Homo sapiens: one gene and its partners. The protein of the gene in region 1 purifies or fractionates together with the protein of each later gene. This does not show direct contact. Each region holds a gene or a part of one and is shown in the gene's direction. Other genes may lie near its edges.

Evidence for each region.
Region 2: the proteins of PTS (region 1) and WAPL purify together in Homo sapiens (affinity purification with mass spectrometry; one large-scale study listed by BioGRID and IntAct). This does not show direct contact.
Region 3: the proteins of PTS (region 1) and ZMYM6 purify together in Homo sapiens (affinity purification with mass spectrometry; one large-scale study listed by BioGRID and IntAct). This does not show direct contact.
Region 4: the proteins of PTS (region 1) and SAR1B purify together in Homo sapiens (affinity purification with mass spectrometry; one large-scale study listed by BioGRID and IntAct). This does not show direct contact.

The regions. Positions count from the first base shown.
Region 1 is NC_000011.10:112,228,856-112,232,646, forward strand, and holds part of PTS (6-pyruvoyl tetrahydrobiopterin synthase), read left to right. Parts: intron 1-1,352; coding exon 1,353-1,375; intron 1,376-1,770; coding exon 1,771-1,827; intron 1,828-3,791. UniProt on the Homo sapiens protein: Involved in the biosynthesis of tetrahydrobiopterin, an essential cofactor of aromatic amino acid hydroxylases. Catalyzes the transformation of 7,8-dihydroneopterin triphosphate into 6-pyruvoyl tetrahydropterin.
Region 2 is NC_000010.11:86,434,793-86,440,160, reverse strand, and holds the end of WAPL (wings apart-like protein homolog), read left to right. Parts: intron 1-2,145; coding exon 2,146-2,241; intron 2,242-2,552; coding exon 2,553-2,618; 3' UTR 2,619-4,905; downstream 4,906-5,368. UniProt on the Homo sapiens protein: Regulator of sister chromatid cohesion in mitosis which negatively regulates cohesin association with chromatin. Involved in both sister chromatid cohesion during interphase and sister-chromatid resolution during early stages of mitosis.
Region 3 is NC_000001.11:35,007,150-35,012,517, reverse strand, and holds part of ZMYM6 (zinc finger MYM-type protein 6), read left to right. Parts: coding exon 1-87; intron 88-512; coding exon 513-628; intron 629-1,481; coding exon 1,482-1,760; intron 1,761-1,920; coding exon 1,921-2,071; intron 2,072-3,593; coding exon 3,594-3,766; intron 3,767-5,368. UniProt on the Homo sapiens protein: Plays a role in the regulation of cell morphology and cytoskeletal organization.
Region 4 is NC_000005.10:134,611,296-134,616,663, reverse strand, and holds part of SAR1B (small COPII coat GTPase SAR1B), read left to right. Parts: intron 1-3,631; exon of another isoform or gene 3,632-3,650; intron 3,651-3,907; coding exon 3,908-3,973; intron 3,974-5,368. UniProt on the Homo sapiens protein: Small GTPase that cycles between an active GTP-bound and an inactive GDP-bound state and mainly functions in vesicle-mediated endoplasmic reticulum (ER) to Golgi transport.

The DNA.
Region 1 (3,791 bases):
TTACCTTGCAATGTCAACTCTTACAAACAGTCCAAAACAATGAATGGTTTAAAGCATTTTTCTTTGTCCTAGAGTACACAACAAGTTTCTTTCTGATTAGGTATGGCCAAGGCTAATGTTAAAATTAGATTTTATTCTTTGAGTAAATAATGACTGACAAAAGGGGAATGTTGCCTAGGAATGTAATGTATGGCAGAAAAATAGGTTTGGTCTAAAGCTTTGCCAGCAGTGTTCGAAGAAAGTAGGTAATTTGTTCAAGGATAAGAGACTTGATTCTTTGAGGTACAGCCTGCCTTAAAAAACAGGTACATAAGTCGTAGAGTATAAAACAGTATGTGGTGTGGTGGCATAAAAAAAAACAGACAAGGTGTCAGGAGATTAGGATTACTGGTTTAGCTACAGCCTCTTCCTTAATCTATGGTATCTCAGTCTCAGTGTACTCACTTACATGTAATATCTAATGGTATTTGTACAGAACTAAAATACATAAATTCATAAAAGTTATTAATGTGTAAAGCACTGATAAAGTTTTTTTTTGTTGTTGTTGTTTTTTTTTTTGAGATGGAGTTCCACTCTTTTTGCCCAGGCTGGAATGGTGTGATCTCCCGTCACTACAACCTCCACCTCCCAGGTTCGAGCGATTCTCCAGCCTCAGCCTCCCGAGTAGCTGAGATTACAGGCGCCCGCCACTATGCCTGGCTAATTTTTGTATTTTTAGTAGAGATGGGGTTTCACCATGTTGGCCAGGCTGCTCTCAAACTCCAGACCTCAGGTGATCTGCCCGCCTCGGCCTCCCGAAGTGCTGGGATTACAGGCTTGAGCCACCACGCCTGGCCAAGATTTTTCAAATGCTTCTCACAAGCACTTTTTAATTTACAAAGCATTACTTTAGACTTTGTATACATTCATGTGAGTAAGGGGACAAGAATTTAAGGCCCAGTAGTATTGCTTGTTCAGAAAGGTACTGCTCAGTATTGGACCAGCTTGCTGTGTAGCTGGACACCTGAAAGACATTTTCTACTTCTACAGGCAGAGACTGAGCAGCATCTTGATGCTCCCTAGTGCATTAACATAAGCAGAATTTACACCCTTTTCAGCCTTGGCCGAGTGCCTCTGCTTAGCCAACATTCCTACTAAGCTCCTTTGTCTCGATTGTGTCTTGCTTTGGTTGCTAAAAAAAAAATCTTAACTAAAATAACAGATGTTTTGGGGTAAATATTTAAGTATAGCTTTTGGGGACAGATCTAATAATTTATGTTGCCAACTTGTGCTTGTATGTTGCTAACTTGTGCTTGGATGTTGATCTGTTGAAAGTCATGCTGTTTTTTTTGTATTTTGTTTTCTTTCCATAGTTGTGGTGACAGTACATGGAGAGGTATGTGCAGAAAATATTTGTGTGGTTTTTGCAGATTGCTGGGCTCTCTTTCAGCCAGTGTGGTGGATTCTGTGTTGAAAACTGTTCCAGTCAGTATTGCTTCATTGTTGGCCCTTGTATATGTGTGTGTGGTGAGCTGCCGCCATTCCAGGCCTCTCCTCTACCAAAGTGTTGTCTTTAATATGCTGTATGTGGACAGGTAGAAGGGCTATACAATGAAAAGGATGCTTGAAGTACATGGTGCTTCCATGCTGAGGTCAATGATTATCTCTGGGATGAAGGCAAATGTGCAAATGTGGGCACAGTCTCTGCACATTGTACTGCCTTTAATAATTTGCCAGCCGTTTAATATGGAGAGCCTATCACAGTAATATTCACCTTTGTTTATTCTTTAGATTGACCCTGCTACGGGAATGGTTATGAATCTGGCTGATCTCAAAAAATATATGGAGGTAATGGCATGTTGGGTGCTTATTATGTGCTATTCCCTAACTGTAATATTTGGTGGCCCCCTATCTACCTCCCCAACCAGTTATCTCCTAAGGTTCCATGACTTTGTGAATAGAACTGGATGTGGGTGTTGGGGAATAGTTGGAAGAACTGCTCGCATGGCCTCTAAAGGTGTTTTGGTGACTTAACGGAAATTAGTCACAGTTGTGTTACAGCGATGGGAGGAAATATAACATGCTCACCTTGTATTCCTTGTTGGAATATCCTGATTTCCTTCAGTTAACAAATTCTCCATTTCTTTTAAGACATAGCTTTCTCCTTGAGACTTACTGTCTTTCTTTTTTTTTTTTTTTTTAAATAGGCACAGAACCAATGCAAACTTTTCTTTTTGGTAGAGGTAGGGGTCTCACTATGTTGTTCAGGCTGGTCTCAGACACCTCCTGCCTTGACCTCCCAAAGTGCTGGAATTACAGGCATGAGCTACTGCTCCTGGCCTTCTCCTTGGAGCTTTCTCTTCCCTCTCTGAATATTCCTTGTACCTTTGATCATAGATTTAGACACCACACTGTGTTGTTCATTCTAGCTTTATTATAAACTCACCAGAGCAGTACCTCATAGAGATAACACACAAGGTGTTCAATGAAGAACTTAACTGATTGTGTCATTATAGAATTCTTGCACTGTAAGAGACTTTGGAGATTATTCAGACCAACTTCTTCAACCCATAGATTAAGATTGAGAGATGCTGAACAGTTAACTGACTTGCCCCAGGTCATATGGCTAGTCATTTGCAAAGCTGGGAGTAGATTTCTTTCCTTCCAGCTGTTTTATTATGCTGTCATTTCACTTGCAGCTTAGGTTTGTTCTGAGATTTGACATTTGCTTGATTAAAATGATGTTATTAGTAATGATTACTTCTTTCACATTACTTATTCATATATTCAACAAATTTCTCTACTTCGCATCAGTTTTTGAGCTAAGTGTACAAAGATGAATGAGATGTAGCCCACAGAGTGTATACATTACTTTTTCTAGGAGGTGAAGAATATTATTAAATAACTGTTGATTTAATAAATGAGTAGAAGAATGAGTGAATGAAGAAACAGCACTATGCTCAAAATACTTTAGGAAAGTTATACAGATAGGGCCAGCATGCATTTATGGGGCAGGGGTTGGGGGGCAGGCGGAGAGAGAGAGAGAGGGAGACAGAGACAGGAGAAGAGGAGGGGGAGGGGAGGACAGGGGAGGAGAGGGGAGGGGAAAGAAAGAAAAAGAAAAAGAGAAAAGAAAAGAAAAGAAAGAAAAGAGACAAGACAGCAACATAAAAGGCCTCAACATATGACTAAATACTGGAGGAGGGCTTCTCTATGCTGTTTTCTGCTTTTGTATGCCTGAAGGACACCACACACTTTCATCAGTAAAAGTGGCTTATCATGGCATGTAGAGTAAAGTTAGAGCTCTACCGTGGGGGGAGGATTGCTTGAGTCCAGGAGTTCAAGGCTGCAGTGAGCTATGATTATGCCACTTGCACTCCAGCCTGGATGACAGAGACCCTGTCTCTAAAAACAAAACAAAAGAAAACAAAAAGCCCTGCATAAGAGGCTTTAATGGAGAAATTGGGACTGGAACTGGGATTGAAGATGAAGCAAGGATGCCCGTTTTCTTGTTATTCATGTGGAACATCCCTTCATTGGATATATTTCAATAACTGTTTGATCTAGGACTTACTCTTTTTGTATGATTCTAGTTTTTCTCAAGAAATGATTGCTGTTACTGTTATTAATGTACCCTTCTTCAAACTACGTCCTATGGAAAATTACATTTTTTTTTCACAGATGCTTAGATTTTTTGCAATAGCTAAAAGCAAAAACCTAGAAAGAATGAGGCAATTTAATCCTTGCTGATGATGAGGAAAAACATTATGTTAATATACACGAGCATTAGGGAGTAATAGTCTTTACATATA
Region 2 (5,368 bases), on another chromosome or scaffold:
TATCTTGGGCCATCTTTCCCATGCTAATTCCTATTTGTGTTTGCCTGTATCTATCTTGTCTCTAAAAAGAGAATGTTCTTAAATTGTGGGAAATGTTGTGAATTCATAGAGCCCCAGATTTATTTGTTGCCTTGGAGATTATTATGATTAACACCAAAAAGCTAGCTGATACCACAAAATGTAAAGGAAGTTTGGTTTACCTAATGTGTAAGTGAAAAGAGATAGACAAGAAAGCATGTGGTTGTTGCAGTAAATGCTGCTTTGTGGTCTGATCCCATTTTCACTTGCCCTCCATGTCTTCTCACTTTGCAGCTGGTGCATTGCAGTGGTCAGTCTCCTCACTGCTCTTCCTGCTTTGTTGCCCCTCCATTCCTGGGACATTGCACATTGCCACTGGAGCTAACTTACTTCAGAGCACTTACTGATCACGTAGCTCCTTGCCCAGTCTTCCTTGGCTCACAGCCAGGAAGGGGACTCATGACTGTTTAGTGTTGCAAGACCCTGGACTTAAGACTGCTTCTCCAATTTCCAAACCTACTGGACACTTTTAAAATTTTTCAAATAGGCCATGCTGTATCATGCCTTTTCTTTTTGTACCTGCTATATTCTGTTAAAAAATGCTGTCACTGTCCCTCCCATTGCCTCAGAAACGCTGTATGTCATGTTCTGTAGTGTGTTGATAGAGAAGGGTTTGATTTGGATTAATGAGGGGCTTTCATCCAAAATATAGGAGCTAATCATATATTCTCTATTACAGAGGCGTACTTTTCTACTGAGCAGTTCTCCAGAGACACCTTAGCCACTATTTTGCCCACCACTGTGATAGCTTTTGGTGGGAGGATCAGTTTGAATGTGTGTAACTGATATCTTCAGCACATGAGTACTTTAGCAGTGTTTTGATTAGATCTTTTCTGAAGCTGTATTCATCTCATTTTTTTGCTGCTTTCTAATTTTGCGAGTACCCTGGCATGGGAATAGGAAAAAGGGGGTGGGTAGTGGCAAATTTCTGAAGAGAAATATGTCATCTCTCCTTTTTTGCCCCCGCTAACAAAAGTCGAATTGGGAGCTTTTGTGTGTTTTCTTTTTGTTTTTTGGTTGGTTTTGTTTAACCCTTTACCTTGTGTCCCCAAACTTGGGACAGTATACTTTCTTTTGCCCCTTACTACAGGTGAACCTTCCTAAAAGATTTTTTCTTTTTATTCTCCGTAAAACATTTAAAGCATTCTTTAATGAAATAGTTTTTTAAGCAGGTTGTGTAATGTTTTCCATGTAACAGATTGGTTTATATATAGTTTGGCTGCTTCTTGCTAATAATGAAGGGTTTTCTCTCCTGATATTGTCTGAGAATCTATCATAGATGAGGTTAGATTGCCTTTGGAAAGATGCTTCTAGTTAATTCCTGTCCTATATAATTAGTTGAATTCATCTGTGAAGGATGTGAATTTTTCTTTGATCTTTTTATTTCATGAGCAGCTTTGTGAGTACATTCTCAGGTCTAAAGTCCTCACCCTCTTCTCCTATTCCCCCAGGGCCCCCAGTGAAACACACACATACATTAAACAGTGCAGTTTGTTATTTCAGGCCTTTTTCTTTGCATTTATGAAAGTAGGTCGGCATGCTGCCTCACACCTGTAATTCCAGCACTTTGGGAGGCCAAGGTGCGTGGATTACTTGAGCCCAGGAGCTCGAGACCAGCCTGGCCAACATGATGAAACCACGTCTCTGCTAAAAATACAAAAATTAGCCAGGCATGGTGGCACGTGCCTTTAATCCCGGCTACCCGGGAGGCTGAGGCATGGGAATCACTTGAACCCAGGAGGTAGAGGTTGCAGTGAGCTGAGATTACACCACTGCACTCCAGCCTGGGTAACAGAGTGACTGTTTCATTTAAAAAAAAAAAAAAAAAAGTAAATGTGTACACAAATATTTCTTTGTAGCTTTTGCCAACTTTACCTTTCTCCTTTCTTTCTGAGGGTGAGGTAGGAAATCACATGCAGAGTGAGTGTGGAAAGAGAATAAATAACCACGTGTTCCAAGGATCTTAAAAATTTGCACCAAGATGTGTGTCAAAACCAACAACATTGTACGAGGTGCAATCTCATGTTTTCTGCCAGCTGACCAATATTTCTTGCTCTGTTTCCTCAGATCAATGTAACCACTGTGCGGGAATATCTGCCAGAAGGAGACTTTTCAATAATGACAGAGATGCTCAAAAAATTTTTGAGTTTTATGAATCTCACTGTAAGTAGCTTTTATTACAGCTTATATGATTTTAAATTTATAATACATTGACAGTAGACATAAAAATACTATGGCCATAGTAAGTGGGAGCAAAAAGGGATTTTCTTTTAATTTTAATAATCGTGTTCTATTTCTTCAAGGTAATCATTGCATGTTATGGCAAATAACTTTATCAAACCCACAATTTAATCTCGGTGTACTTTGATTTGTAGTGTTCAGTTTAGTAAATCTAGAGGTAAACTTTTATTTATACTTCTTAAAATCTGTTAAATATTAACTGTTACTTCCTTTCCCCTTCACCCTGCTTTCAGTGTGCTGTTGGAACAACTGGCCAGAAATCTATCTCTAGAGTGATTGAATATTTGGAACATTGCTAGCTGCTTTACCTTTGCTTCAGGTGCTCGGTAATGCTGGAGCTATCCTTAGACAAAGAAAAGTCAAGTCATGAAAGAAGTCCTTGAAGATATACCAAGAACATTCATCAGTATCATTCGTGTTTGGATTTTTAAGGCCACCTGATTTCTTCGTCATGCATTCGGCATTTGCTAAATGACAGTTACTACATCAATCTGCAACTATCAAAAATGAGGGGAAAAGGTTCAGGCTGTTAACAATTCCATGCAGTATTTAAATACATTTACTTTGGCAGAGTTTATACCCTCCCCTTGTTTTCTTGCTTTATTCTGGGCAAGTTTGAAGGGGAAAATTTGTGCTGCTGTTAGTGCAACTGCTGTGTATGTTGAGCCACTGTTGTCATGCCAGCCAGGTGCAAAGGCAGCTTAGCTACTGAGGTAGCGAATGTTCTGAGGACATTCTAGACAACAGCTTAGTTCCTTTTTCAGGCTCATTTGCTTTTGCTTTTTTGTTGAATGATTCCAATCGTAAATAAAGCTTTTAATAATTTTGTGAATTTTTTGGTTGTTGTTCCCTGAACTACTGTCTATATTTAAAATTAGATGGAATCCAAAGATACACGGGATTAATAGTATATTTTTTTATTCTTGATTAGGTTTGGGTTATTGAACTATTTTTTACTTTTGAGACCACAACCATATTCAATATCATACCATAATGTGTCATAGCTATAGGCACAAGAAAAACAACAGTTTGAGAGAATATTATATAAGATGATGTGCCCTGTTAAAAGGAGGAGGCAAAATAGTCAAACCCAGGGTAGTTTACACTTAATGCTAGGGAGGCTCTTAAAACATTATTAGATTTTGAGGAAAGACTCTCTAGATATATTTTCTAATGTTCAGTACAATAAATATAAGGAAGCTAAAACACCAATGTGGAATTCCTGTTTCCAGATAACATGTATATTCTTCTATAGAGTGACAGGATCAATTGCATAAGCGCAAAGCCTTAAATTGCTGGTTTAGAGAAGACCCTTTTTTCATTCAGATTCTTTGTTCGTAGAGCAGTTATTTGAAAAACAGTTATGGAACACAAAACATTTTATAGATTTAATATCATAACATTGCAAATTTTTCTTGTATTATTCACACCACTGGTTATACTTTTTTTTTTCCTTTTTTATTGATTGGGCCTGAATACAGGCTTTCTAGAGATCTTTTTCATTAATACTTTTAAATACCTTTCAGGTAGTTACATCATGTTTCTTCATTGGATTTGTAAAACTTGAAGCCATAAAAATATTAGTTTGGTGTGTATTGGGGAAAATAGCTAAAAGTCTAATTTTTACCCATTTAGACTTTGTTATTTCCTTGTATAAAGTGACAAATCGGGGCTCTTGTATCAGTGCCAGCTGTAATGTTTTTAAATGCAGTGGCTGCCTTCTATTGTCTTCCTATTTTTGATAATGCAGATTGTTGGGAAATCTGTAAGGAAGTAACTGATTCCAGGCAAATTGTTTTCTTCCTTCTACCCACCCCAACCCCTACCCATCACCTTTTAAGAACATAGTACGCCAGTGTAACGTGGGAACCATTGAGATTGTATTTGCCCTGAGTATTAAAGCTAGCTTAGCAAAATACTTTTAAAAACATATTGGTAAATGATACCCGTAAAATTAAATTAGTTATATTTTATTTTAAAATGCAAAATACATTGATATTTATTAATCATTGGATTTAGGGAAAGGGACAGATTTTTGGTGAACCTGACTTGTGGCAGATGGTAAGGAATATTATAAAACATTTGGATGAGAACAATCAGGGCGAACTGCATTTTTCTGTTACACTGGTAATCATTTGAAAATTGATTTACCTCAGTGTTTAACAGTTTTTTGTTTTGTTTTGTTTTTTAAATAATAACTAATTGTCGAGCACTGATAGAGATGCAGATTTTGGTGGGGGGAGGTGGTGGGGGAGATAATCACTTCACCAACTGCAGTGCATTTGTGTGTTTTTAACCCTCAGAGAACTCTGCATTTTAGGGTACTTGAGGCTGACTTAACTAAAAGTTTTAAAGTAACCTTTTTTCCATTGTAAATATTTCTGTAAATACTACCAATTGGAAATTAGAACAGTAGAGTACTTTTCTGAATCCAATCCTATTTTTATTTTATACAGTATTTCTCAGCTGTGATCTTTGGAGCAAAAGCCAACGGCAGGAAAAAATAGTTTGTACCAGTTTCATGAAGTATGTCTTTGGGTTTTTGTAAATAATTTTAACTCAAATAAAATTGCTACTTTCAATACACATGTTGTCTTTAACATAAGTCTATTGGAGGACAGAAGTGTCACAAACTTTATATATAGCCGACTCTAATGGGAAATACACTATCACTTAACACATTTAACCAGTTTTTGTTAAATATTTTATTATTTCTCCATGTTTTTAATAATACTCATCTGAATATAATGTGAACTCAACAACTCAGGCCAATTAGGGACTGGATTTTCAGTTAGGCCCTTGGCATACTTAACTGTTTTGATTTAGGTTATTTTTTGCTCCTATGAGTATGATCCAAGACATCTTTGCTTCTGAGGTTTTACACTGCTTTTTAGTTTTTCAGTTTTCTTCTTAATTGTCAGCCCTTAGGCATCCTGCATTTACAAGTAGATTCCTCAACTTCTCCTTACTGCTTTTAGCCACAAAACTAGATTGAAGGATCTCTCCTGGGAGTTTCCATTACTCTCCCCACTTAAACATGAGTAAGAGT
Region 3 (5,368 bases), on another chromosome or scaffold:
AGACTACAAATGATTCAGGAAAAACAGAGCTTTTCTGCTCTATTAATTGCTTATCTGCTTACAGAGTTAAGACTGTTACTTCTTCAGGTAATGTTTAAATTTGATAAATTTATAGATTTAATAACTATTGAAGAAAAACGTAACTGCTTTTCTCTGATTTTGTTACAAGCTAAATTTATCTATTTAGTTAAATAAAAACCCAAGACTGACTTTTAAATAACTGACTTTTATGTGAAAATAGTTTTTCCCCGATTTTCTTGGTTGCAATATATACAGTATTTTATAATTTCATATGTGAGAGGAAAGAAAAAACACTTAAAATTTCCAAGTTAGTTTTTGTGTAAGTGGGACTTAATAGAGGTTAGTTGTGGTTAGATTTCAGATTTTTATAAAGTTCCTTGATTTTTTTGGTATATTATTGATTATTTAATTTTTTCATTCTCCCAATACATTTTTGTATTGTTTGTTCATTGGTATAACTTAATCATTGTTTTTAATTTTTTGTCACCAAGGTGTCCAGGTTTCATGTCATAGTTGTAAAACCTCAGCAATCCCTCAGTATCACCTAGCCATGTCAAATGGAACTATATACAGCTTCTGCAGCTCCAGTTGTGTGGTTGCTTTCCAGGTATGATCTAAGGTAGCACATTATGCATGTGGTTCTGTTAGGCATCGATCTGTGGCACAGTGTTAACTGCTGAAGGCCTGTTCTTATGAAAGTTTAAATTTGAATTAAAAAGAAAAAAATTTGTTTCATCCAGGGGCCCAACCAGGTCATTTCTACAAAATATCTGAACCCAGATATTGGGTCTCAGCAGTTTCTTCTTTATTTAGGATCCTAGCCTAAACTGTCATTCCCTCCCACTTTCTCCCTTGGGTCTCTCCCCTTCAAAAAGATGGAAGCTAGGATTGTGGTTTGGGTAGGTGGTATGGTGAAGAACAGTAGCCTGATGGGATTCACATACCCCTTCCTCTCATCCTGTGTCAGAAACACAGTGACTCCTGGCATGGAATTGTAAGCATCCACTTGTCCCATTTTCTCCTCCCTCTCTGCAATACATACACAAAGAGTAGAGTTTAGTAATCTCCAGGGTAGGAACATGCCTGATGTAGTATCCCTGGCATTAGGGAGAAAGAGACTGCTGGTAGCTATTGTGTCGTAGTAGCCATCAGAAGCTGGTTGATGATGGGAGTGCAGGTAGGGGGAAGTTTTAGGGGGAAGGAGAGGCCTGCTCTAATTTATTAGAGGCATATACTGGAGGTCTTTGTCAGGAAAGCCTGAATTCCAGTCCTTGACCTTTTAATGTTGTATTTCTCAGTCCTTTTATTCTGGAAATATACCATTTAAACTCTTTCTGTGAGATAGAAAATTTTAAAAAATGTTTGTGGGAGACTTGATTTATTAAAATGAGGAAATGAAAAGTACAAAGTTATCTTATTTCTCAGTTGATAAAATCTTTACCTTATTTGTTTTCATTCAGAATGTATTTAGCAAGCCAAAAGGAACAAACTCTTCGGCGGTGCCCCTGTCTCAGGGCCAAGTGGTTGTAAGCCCGCCCTCCTCCAGGTCAGCAGTGTCAATAGGAGGAGGTAACACCTCTGCCGTTTCCCCCAGCTCCATCCGTGGCTCTGCTGCAGCCAGCCTCCAACCTCTTGCTGAACAATCCCAGCAAGTTGCTTTAACCCATACAGTTGTTAAACTCAAGTGTCAGCACTGTAACCATCTATTTGCCACAAAACCAGAACTTCTTTTTTACAAGGTAAAGAGAGATCATGAAAGGGATTGTATATAAACTCATCCAGTAGAAACACTTTTGTGTTTTCAATTTTGATCACTCAATTTGCTTTGACATGAAAAGGAGTTCTTAAAGATAAAGCAACTGTTTAGTTGGCTCTTAATGGACTGTTGTTTCTCTGCAGGGTAAAATGTTTCTGTTTTGTGGCAAGAATTGCTCTGATGAATACAAGAAGAAAAATAAAGTTGTGGCAATGTGTGACTACTGTAAACTGCAGAAAATTATAAAGGAGACTGTGCGATTCTCAGGGGTTGATAAGCCATTCTGTAGTGAAGGTAAAGACAAAGTTGTTTTATTCACAGAGCATGGGTTGTTATAATTCATGACGACTTGGGCAATTAAGCCATGATTAGTTTTCACATTCTTTTTGTCTTACAAGGTGTAATTAGAAGTATTTTGGAGGCCGGGCATGGAGGCTCACGCCTGTAATCCCAGCATTTTGGGAGGCTGAGGTGGGTGGATCACTTGAGGTTGGGAGTTCAAGACCAGCCTGACCAACATGGTGAAACCCCATCTCTGTTAAAAAACACCGTCTCTATACAAAATTAGCCGGGCATGGTGCCGCACGCCTGTAATCCCAGCTACTTGGGAGCCTGAGGCAGGAGAATTGCATGAACCTCAGAGGCAGAGGTTGCAGTGAGCTGAGATCATGCCATTGCACTGCAGCCTGGGCGACGAGCGAAACTCTTGTCTCCAAAAAAAAAAAGGTTTTTTTGAATTGTGTTTATAGTTAATTCACTTTAAAGTCAATCTTTTTATTTATTATTTTTGTTTGTTTATTTTTTTGAGACAAGGTCTTGCCCTGTCACTCAGGCTGGAGTGTGGTGGCATGATCTTGGCTTATTGCAGTCTCTGCCTCCCCGGTTTAAGGGATCCTCCCACTTCAGCCTCCCAAGTAGCTGAAGCTACAGGAGCGTGCCACCATGCCTGGCTAATTTTTTTTATTTTTGGTAGAGACGGGGGGTTTCACCATGTTTCCCAGGCTGGTCTTGAACTCCTGAGCTCAGGTGGTACTCCTGCCTCGGCCTCCCAAAGTGCTGGGATTATAGGCGTGAGCGACTGTGCCTGGCTGAAAGTCAGTCTTTTTAAATGTTGCAGTAATTGCAATAAAAAACTGTAAAAATGATTACATCAGTGGTATTAATAAAGAAAATCTCTTCATAAGTTTAGCTATGACATCAGAGATCTTTTTGTTCTTGCACTCATTTGCGAAGAGGAACTTAAAACAGTTGCTGCTTCTTGGCTTAAAAAACTTTTATACCTCTAATGTTTCTGAATATAAATGGCCTAATATTTAGAGTATATTTAAAAGGTGGTGGCAGGGCGCAGTGGCTCACGCCTGTATTCCCAGCACTTTGGGAGGCCAAGGCGAGCCAGATCACCTGAGGTCAGGAGTTTGAGACCAGCCTGGCCAACATGGCGAAATGCCATCTCTACTAAAAATACAAAAATTAGCTGGGTGTGGTGGCAGGTACCTGTAATCCCAGCTGCTCTACTCAGGAGGCTGAGGCAGGAGAATCGTTTGAACCTGGGAGGCAGAGGTTGCAGTGAGCTGAGATTGTGCCACTGCACTCCAGCCTGGGCAAAACGAGTGAGACTCTGTCTCAAAAAATAAAATAAAATAAAAGGTGGTATGAGTTTGGTTTGTGAATATAGAGACTGTCCTGTAATCTAGAGGCAAATAATTGTGTATTAGAAATTAGCTTAAAGTTTCATATCTAAGACCACAGAAACTTATTATACCTCCTCAGTTAATGTAAATTTGATTTTTCTTCCTTTCATCCCTCTGATCCTCAGTTTGCAAATTCCTCTCTGCCCGTGACTTTGGAGAACGATGGGGAAACTACTGTAAGATGTGCAGCTACTGTTCACAGACATCCCCAAATTTGGTAGAAAATCGATTGGAGGGCAAGTTAGAAGAGTTTTGTTGTGAAGATTGTATGTCCAAATTTACAGTTCTGTTTTATCAGGTAAATGTGATAATATACTTTTTTTGGCTTTCTGAAATCAGTGCAAATTGTTTTTATTTAAAATGTATTCAAATTATGTGAAGAAAAATTTGGTGTTTAGCACTGGATAAAATAAGTTATGGGCTATAATAGAAAAATTCAATTGAATATAAACAGGAAATCTTTGGGATAAAAAGTATAGGATTTCTGCAGACTTTGTTGTTGGTTGGATATGTTCCTTTTATTTTTGCCTTCTTATGAGGCACTTTGCCCTTATTTGACTTCTTTCAGGTTAGAACTTCACATAATGTTGCCTGAAGTGGCTCTCTCATTCAGGTTACTCTGAGGAATTTGAAGTTAGACCTTGTCTCACTTCATAGGTCAAAGGACAATAGCTGGCAACCATTCCTACCTCATTTTTAAAAAGATTAACTTTTTGAAAGGCTAACAATGGTAGCTACAGTTAATTGAACCACTAATACATGTCTGGTGCTCTGTAAGTGTCATTTCATTTAATCCTTACCATAGTCCCAAGAGGTAAGTATATTACTGCCATTTTATAAATAAGGAAAAGGAGAGAGGTCCAGGGAAGTTAAGTAATATGCTCTTGAGGAAGCTGGTAGGTGACAGCAAGACAGCATCTATAACACTCTGGTAAATCACTGTTTGTTTTTCTACCTCTAAAAAAATAGAATTTTATTGTTGGGGGAGGGTAATATATTTTTCATGATTATATAATTAGGGCCAATCACAGTGCTTAAGACAAAGGATGTCTAATTAAATATTTGCTGAATGAATCAAAATCTTTATGACTCCAAAGCCCATATTATATCAACTACTGTAAGCTGCTGCTTAATTTTTTAGAAGTTGAACCTATCTTTATTTTTTTTTTACTTACTTTTTTCATTGTGTATCTTTTCTTCCCCCATCCCACCTGCCCACCCCCCATCCCCCAGCCAGACAGAATCTTGTTCTATTGCTCAGGCTGGTGTGCAGTGGCGTGATCAGTGGGCGATGTTGGCTCCCTGTAGCCTCTGCCTCCTGGGTTCAAGTGATTCTCCTGCCTCAGCCTCCCGAGTAACCAGGAGAGGTGGGCACCACCATGCCCAGTTATGAACCTATCTTTAGATAGATTCCCTTATTGGTAATTTTGAAAACAGAAGAGCATTTTTTTTTTTTTCTATTGAGACAGAGTCTTACTCTGTCACCCAGGCTGGAGTGCAGTGACGCGATCTCGGCTCACTGCAACCTCTGCCTCCTGGATTCAAGCGATTATCTTACCTCAGCCTTCTAAGTAGCTGGGATTACAGGCGTGCGCCACCACACCTGGCTAATTTTTGTACTTTAGTAGATACGGGGTTTCACCATGTTGGTCAGGCTGGTCTTGAACTCCTGACCTCATGATCCGCCCACCTCGGCCTCCTAAAATGCTGGGATTACAGGCGTGATCCCACAATTACCGTGCCTGGCCACAGTTTTTATATTATCTTGATTTAGGGCATCTATATAAAACAAATAATTAAATAAAATCAGTATTTTAAGGTAAGAACCTTACATTTTGTAGTCTCAACTGACTCATATATCCTGTTTTCGTAGTCCCTCTTTTTATGATTAATGTTATCT
Region 4 (5,368 bases), on another chromosome or scaffold:
GGAGACTTTCTGGGATGTTAACAGTGTTCTGTATCTTAAATAGCCTAATTCAGACTTCTTTTATAAAGCAGAAAGTATATTGGGGATTATTACCATAGAGGTGGTTTGCTAACTAAGCATTATCTTTTCCTTATGAACAGTGACTTTGAATATAGATTGTATTAAATATTTTATTCATTTGGCAATCTACACATAGAATTTCTTTCTTTCTTTTTTTTTTTTTTTTGAGACAAAGTCTCGCTCTTGTCCCCCAGGCTGGAGTGCAATGGTATGATCTCAGCTCACTGCAACCTCCACCTCCCGGGTTCAAGCGATTCTCTTGCCTCAGCCTCTCGAGTAGCTGGGATTACAGGAGCCTACCACCACTCCCGGCTAATTTTTGTATTTTTAGTAGAGACGGGATTTCACCATGTTTGCCAGGATGGTCTCGAACTCCTCACCTCAGGTGATCCGCCCCCCTCGGCCTTCCAAAGTGCTGGGATTACAGGCATGAGCCACCGTGTGCCCTGCCCTTTTTTTTTTTTTTTTTTTTCCGAGATGGAGTCTCGCTCTGTTGCCCAGGCTGGAGTGCAGTGGCCAGTCTCGGCTCACTGCAACCTCCGCCTGCCACATTCTCCTGTCTCAGCTTCCCTAGTAGCTAGGATTACAGGCATCTGCCACCACGCCTGGCTAATTTTTGTATTTTTAGTAGAGACGGGGTTTCACCACATTGGCCAGGCTGGTCTCAGAACTCCTGATGTCTCAAGTGATCCACCCGCCTCGGCCTCCCGAAGTGCTGGGATTAGAGGCATGAGCCACTGCACCTGGCCTACATACAGAATTTCTTTATTTATTATTGTTATTTTTTGAGACGGAGTCTTGCTCTGTCGCCCAGGCTAGAGTGCAGTGGTGCAATCTCGGCTCACTGCAAGCTCCGCCTCCCGCGTTCATGCCATTCTCCTGCCTCAGCCTCCTGAGTAGCTGGGACTACAGGCGCCTGCCACCACGCCCAGCTAATTTTTTGTATTTTTTTAGTAGAGACGGGGTTTCACCGTGTTAGCCAGGATGGTCTCGATCTCCTGACCTCGTGACCCACCCGCCTCAGCCTCCCAAAGTGCTGGGATTACAGGCGTGAGCCACCGCCCCCGGCCCAGAATTTCTTCTTATTTTCAGACAGAATCTCTCTCTGTTGCCCAGGCTGGAGTGCAATGGCGCAATCTCGGCTCACTGCAACCTCCGCCTCCTGGGTTCAAGTGATTCTCCTGCCTCAGCCTCCTGAGTAGCTGGGATTACAGGCACCTGCCACCATGCCTGGGTAATTTTTTTTTTTTTTTTTTGAGATGGAGTCTCGCTCTGTTCCCCAGGCTGGAGTGCAGTGGGGCAATCTCGGCTCATTGCAACCTCTGCCGCCAGGGTTCAAGCGATTCTCCTGCCTCAGCCTCCCTGGTAGCTGGGATTTCAGGCACCTGCCGCTGCACCCAGCTAATTTTTTGTATTTTTAGTAGAGACGGGGTTTCACCTCGTTAGCCAGGATGGTCTCGATCTCCTGACCTCGTGATCTGCCCATCTCGGCCTCCCAAAGTGCTGGGATTACAGGCGTGAGCCACCGCGCCCGGCCCCCAGAATTTCTTAAGAAGATAAAAACTCTGGGCTAAAGTAGCTACACTAAAACTTATGTTGTCATTATGGGGCACTTGTGCTTTTGGCCATAAGTGAGTACTGGTTCTGGAATTACCCTCCCACTGTACACAACTAGAAAACCGGACAAAAAAAGATGCTACAACTGTTTTCAGACATTGGGCAACAGCTACCACAGGACTGTGATTCCTGAGAGAAAGGAAACAACTCTATTTTGGTTTTATGCCAAGAGGTAATTTTCAGACCATGGTGCAAAGAGAGGACACCCAAACATAGTCCAATAGTCTTGCTGAGTTGAGGAGATGTAGACCAGAATTTGGAAAGGCCAACAGGACTAGAATTTTTTTGCTAGGACAGAGAGGAGGGAGTACCGGAGAGGAGGGACCTCTGGAGAGAAAGGACTCTAGAAATTTACATAGCTGAATACCAATCTGTGCATGCAATGGGTAAAGCTCCAAAAGGCTAGTCAAAGAACAATTGTAAGAATGCTGTTAGCCAAATAATTACTAGAGCTCTCATGGGGCCAGGAATTGTTGTTTAATCCCATTTAGCCTTCTAACAAATGTTAAAAACTGATCTGTAAGCAAGTGAACTGTCAGAACAAAATTCAACCTTCTTCAAAAGACTACAACAAAATCCAGCACTCAATATGAAATTACTAGACATGCAAAGAAACAGGAAAGTGATTCAGTCAGTAGAAACAGACACAAGTGTGACAAAGATGATGGAATTAGCAGATTAAGACATAAGACAATCGTTATGAATGTGCTCAGGGATTTAAAGGAAAACACAAACATGAGGAAAGAAATGGAAGATATAACACAGAATCAAATGAAACTTCTAGAAATGAAAAATACAGTATTTGAAATGAAAATTTCTTTTTTTTCTTTCTTTCTTTTTTTTAATAGAGACAGGGTCTCCCTGGGTTGCCCAGGCTGGTCTCGAACTCCTGGGCTCAAGTGATTCTCCCACCTTGGCCTCCCAAAGTCTGGGCTTACAGGTGTGAGCTACCATGCCCAGCCTGAAATGGAAATTTCACTGGATAGGATTAATAGTAAATTAGATAGTGCCAGTACTGCAGAAAGAAAGACCACTAAACTTAACTCAATGCAACAGAAACTCCAGAATGAAGCACAGAGAGAAAAGTGACTGAAAGCAAAATAAACAGAGCCTCAATGACTGGTGAGACAACATCAGGCAGTCTAACAAACCTGCAACTGAAGTCCCAGAAGTGGAAGGGAGGAGAAAGAAAGATAGTTATGGAAATAATGGCCACAATTTTTTATGGTAATTGTTTTTGTAATTAAAGACTGTCTTATGTCAGCCATAAGAGAAAATTATTTCACCTGTATCATTTAAGATGAATTATATGAACAATTATTAGATTGGAGCAGTTATTTGAATTCATAGCAAATAATTGTCTGAAGAGATTAACATTTTCAGCAGGAAGAATAGAGAAGGAAAAATAAATGTTGGATTTGTGGTGAGTAGAATACTAGAACTGAATATTACAATTATTTGTTATATTGTCAGTATGAATTGGTGTATATCTAATTACAAAAAAGTATTATTGTACCAGTTTGTAAATGTTTGATTTGACCTTATTTGCAATAAAAGTAAATCAAACATTAAGTAGTAAATATAAGCTATTGTTAGAAATGCTTGTTCCCTGGTGCTGTAAAGGATAGCACTTGAACATAAATTTAATTTCCTCAGCAAGGCCATTTTTACTTTCTGCAGAAAGGGTACACTTGCCAGCAGTTTTGCCACAAGAGTACACCGAACAAAGGAGACAGGGTCATTTATAATCTGATGCGTCCACCCTACTGCTGTGTCCGGTTTCCATTGGCTGGAATGGGACCTCACATTCTGTATTTGTCCTGATTGGCTAGCAACTTAGAACTTTTTAAAAGAGGCAAAGGCAGAGGAGAACAAAGGAAGGAGGAAGTAACTTGTGGAATGCTGAGAAAGGTAAAAACACCTTCAAATAAGGAAGAGGAACAGGCTATGACCTAATGCTTGCTTGGACCAGTGTAAGTATGCCAGGGCAAATATTTAGGCTAAATTGTGGGAGCTAAGAACATAAAGTACATTGATTTCTTTATTACGGCTGGCAGATATTTAAGAATGTTAGCACGGGTCTTTGAATCAATTTTGCTTCTAAGAGAAGTTACTATTTATTCTTAATTAGATGGGGAGGAAAGTCTTTGAAAAGGAACCTCTACTTTACTTTTTACACGATTAATGGGTTTCTAATTTTCATGTAAAAATATTTTAAAATCTTATTTAGCTTCCGAAGAACTGACCATTGCTGGCATGACGTTTACAACTTTTGATCTGGGTGGACATGTTCAAGGTAAGATTCTTTTTTTTTTTTTTTTTTTTTTTTTTTTTTTTTTTTTTTTAGACAGGCTCACTCTGTCTCCCAGGCTGGAGTGCAGTGGTGCAATCTCAGCTCACTGCAACCTCTGCCTCCTGGGTTCAAGCAATCCTCATGCCTCAGCCTCCCCAATAGCTGGGATTACAGGCATGTGCCACCGCGCCCAGCTGATTTTTGTATTCTTAGTAGAGATGGGATTTCGCCACGTTCAAGGTAAGATTCTCTTACTCTTACAGTCACTTTGTTTTATTTTAACTTAACAAAAATGTGGCCATTAGTTCTAGTGCATGAAATCTCATTCTAGTCACGCAAGGCCAGAGTAGATTTAAAATTTAGGGATTATTACTCCCCGATAAATACTTTAAAAGCAAAGGGTGATTTTCATGATACTTCTGGCCAATTCAAATGAGAATTGCTTTTGGTGGTAAAGTGTATGAGTAAAATTAACTTCCATTCTCTCTACTTCAATCTACCTCTCACTGTCATAATCATGTTTTGAACATGTTACTGCTCTGTAAAACAAAAACAAAACAAAACAAAACAAAAAAACCTTCAGTGGCTAACTCATTACTTACAAAATAAAGGCCAAACTCATTAACCTGGCATTCAGGATCTCTATGATCTGGTCCCAGTTTACTTTTCTGGGCTTTTAAAAATTATCTTATAGAGACAGGGTCTCACTCACTATGTTGCCCAGGCTTGTCTCCAACTCCTGGGCTCAAGCAATCCTCTCATCTCAGTCTCCCAAAAGTTGGGATTATAGGTGTGAGCCACCACATCTGGCCTACTTTTCTTTTATTTCCCTCTATTCCCCTTCCCGTTCTTTTTGCTTCAACCAAATCAGACCTTCTTGGTGTTTTCCTCTGTGCTTTTGTTCATGCCATCCCCATCCGCACATGAGTAACCCCTTTAGGCCCCAGCGTATGCCCTGCTACCTCCCTTGGGAAGCCATTCTCAGTTGGAGTGCTCTCAGCTATACTTCATAGCACTTAGTATATTTGTGTACATGTCTACAACAAGTTTGGAAAGACTGCCTTATCTCTTATATTAAACTTGCGGGGACTAAAATCCTGTTTTTTGTTTTGTTTTAATTAAAAAAAATTTTTTTTGTAGAGATGGGGTCTCACAATCTTGCCCAGGCTGATTTTGAAGTCCTGGCCTCAAGCAATCCTCCTACCTCAATTTCCCAAAGTGCTGGGATTACAGGTGTGAGCCACCACACCTGGCCTGTTCATTTTTTATATCCCCAAAAGTACTTGGCAACATCTACCTCATAGTAAGTCATAACTAACCAATATTACCGAATTGGTGGGCATTCTAAAAACCTGATGCGACATATAGTTGAAAAGATTGTAAATGGTTCTGGCTAGT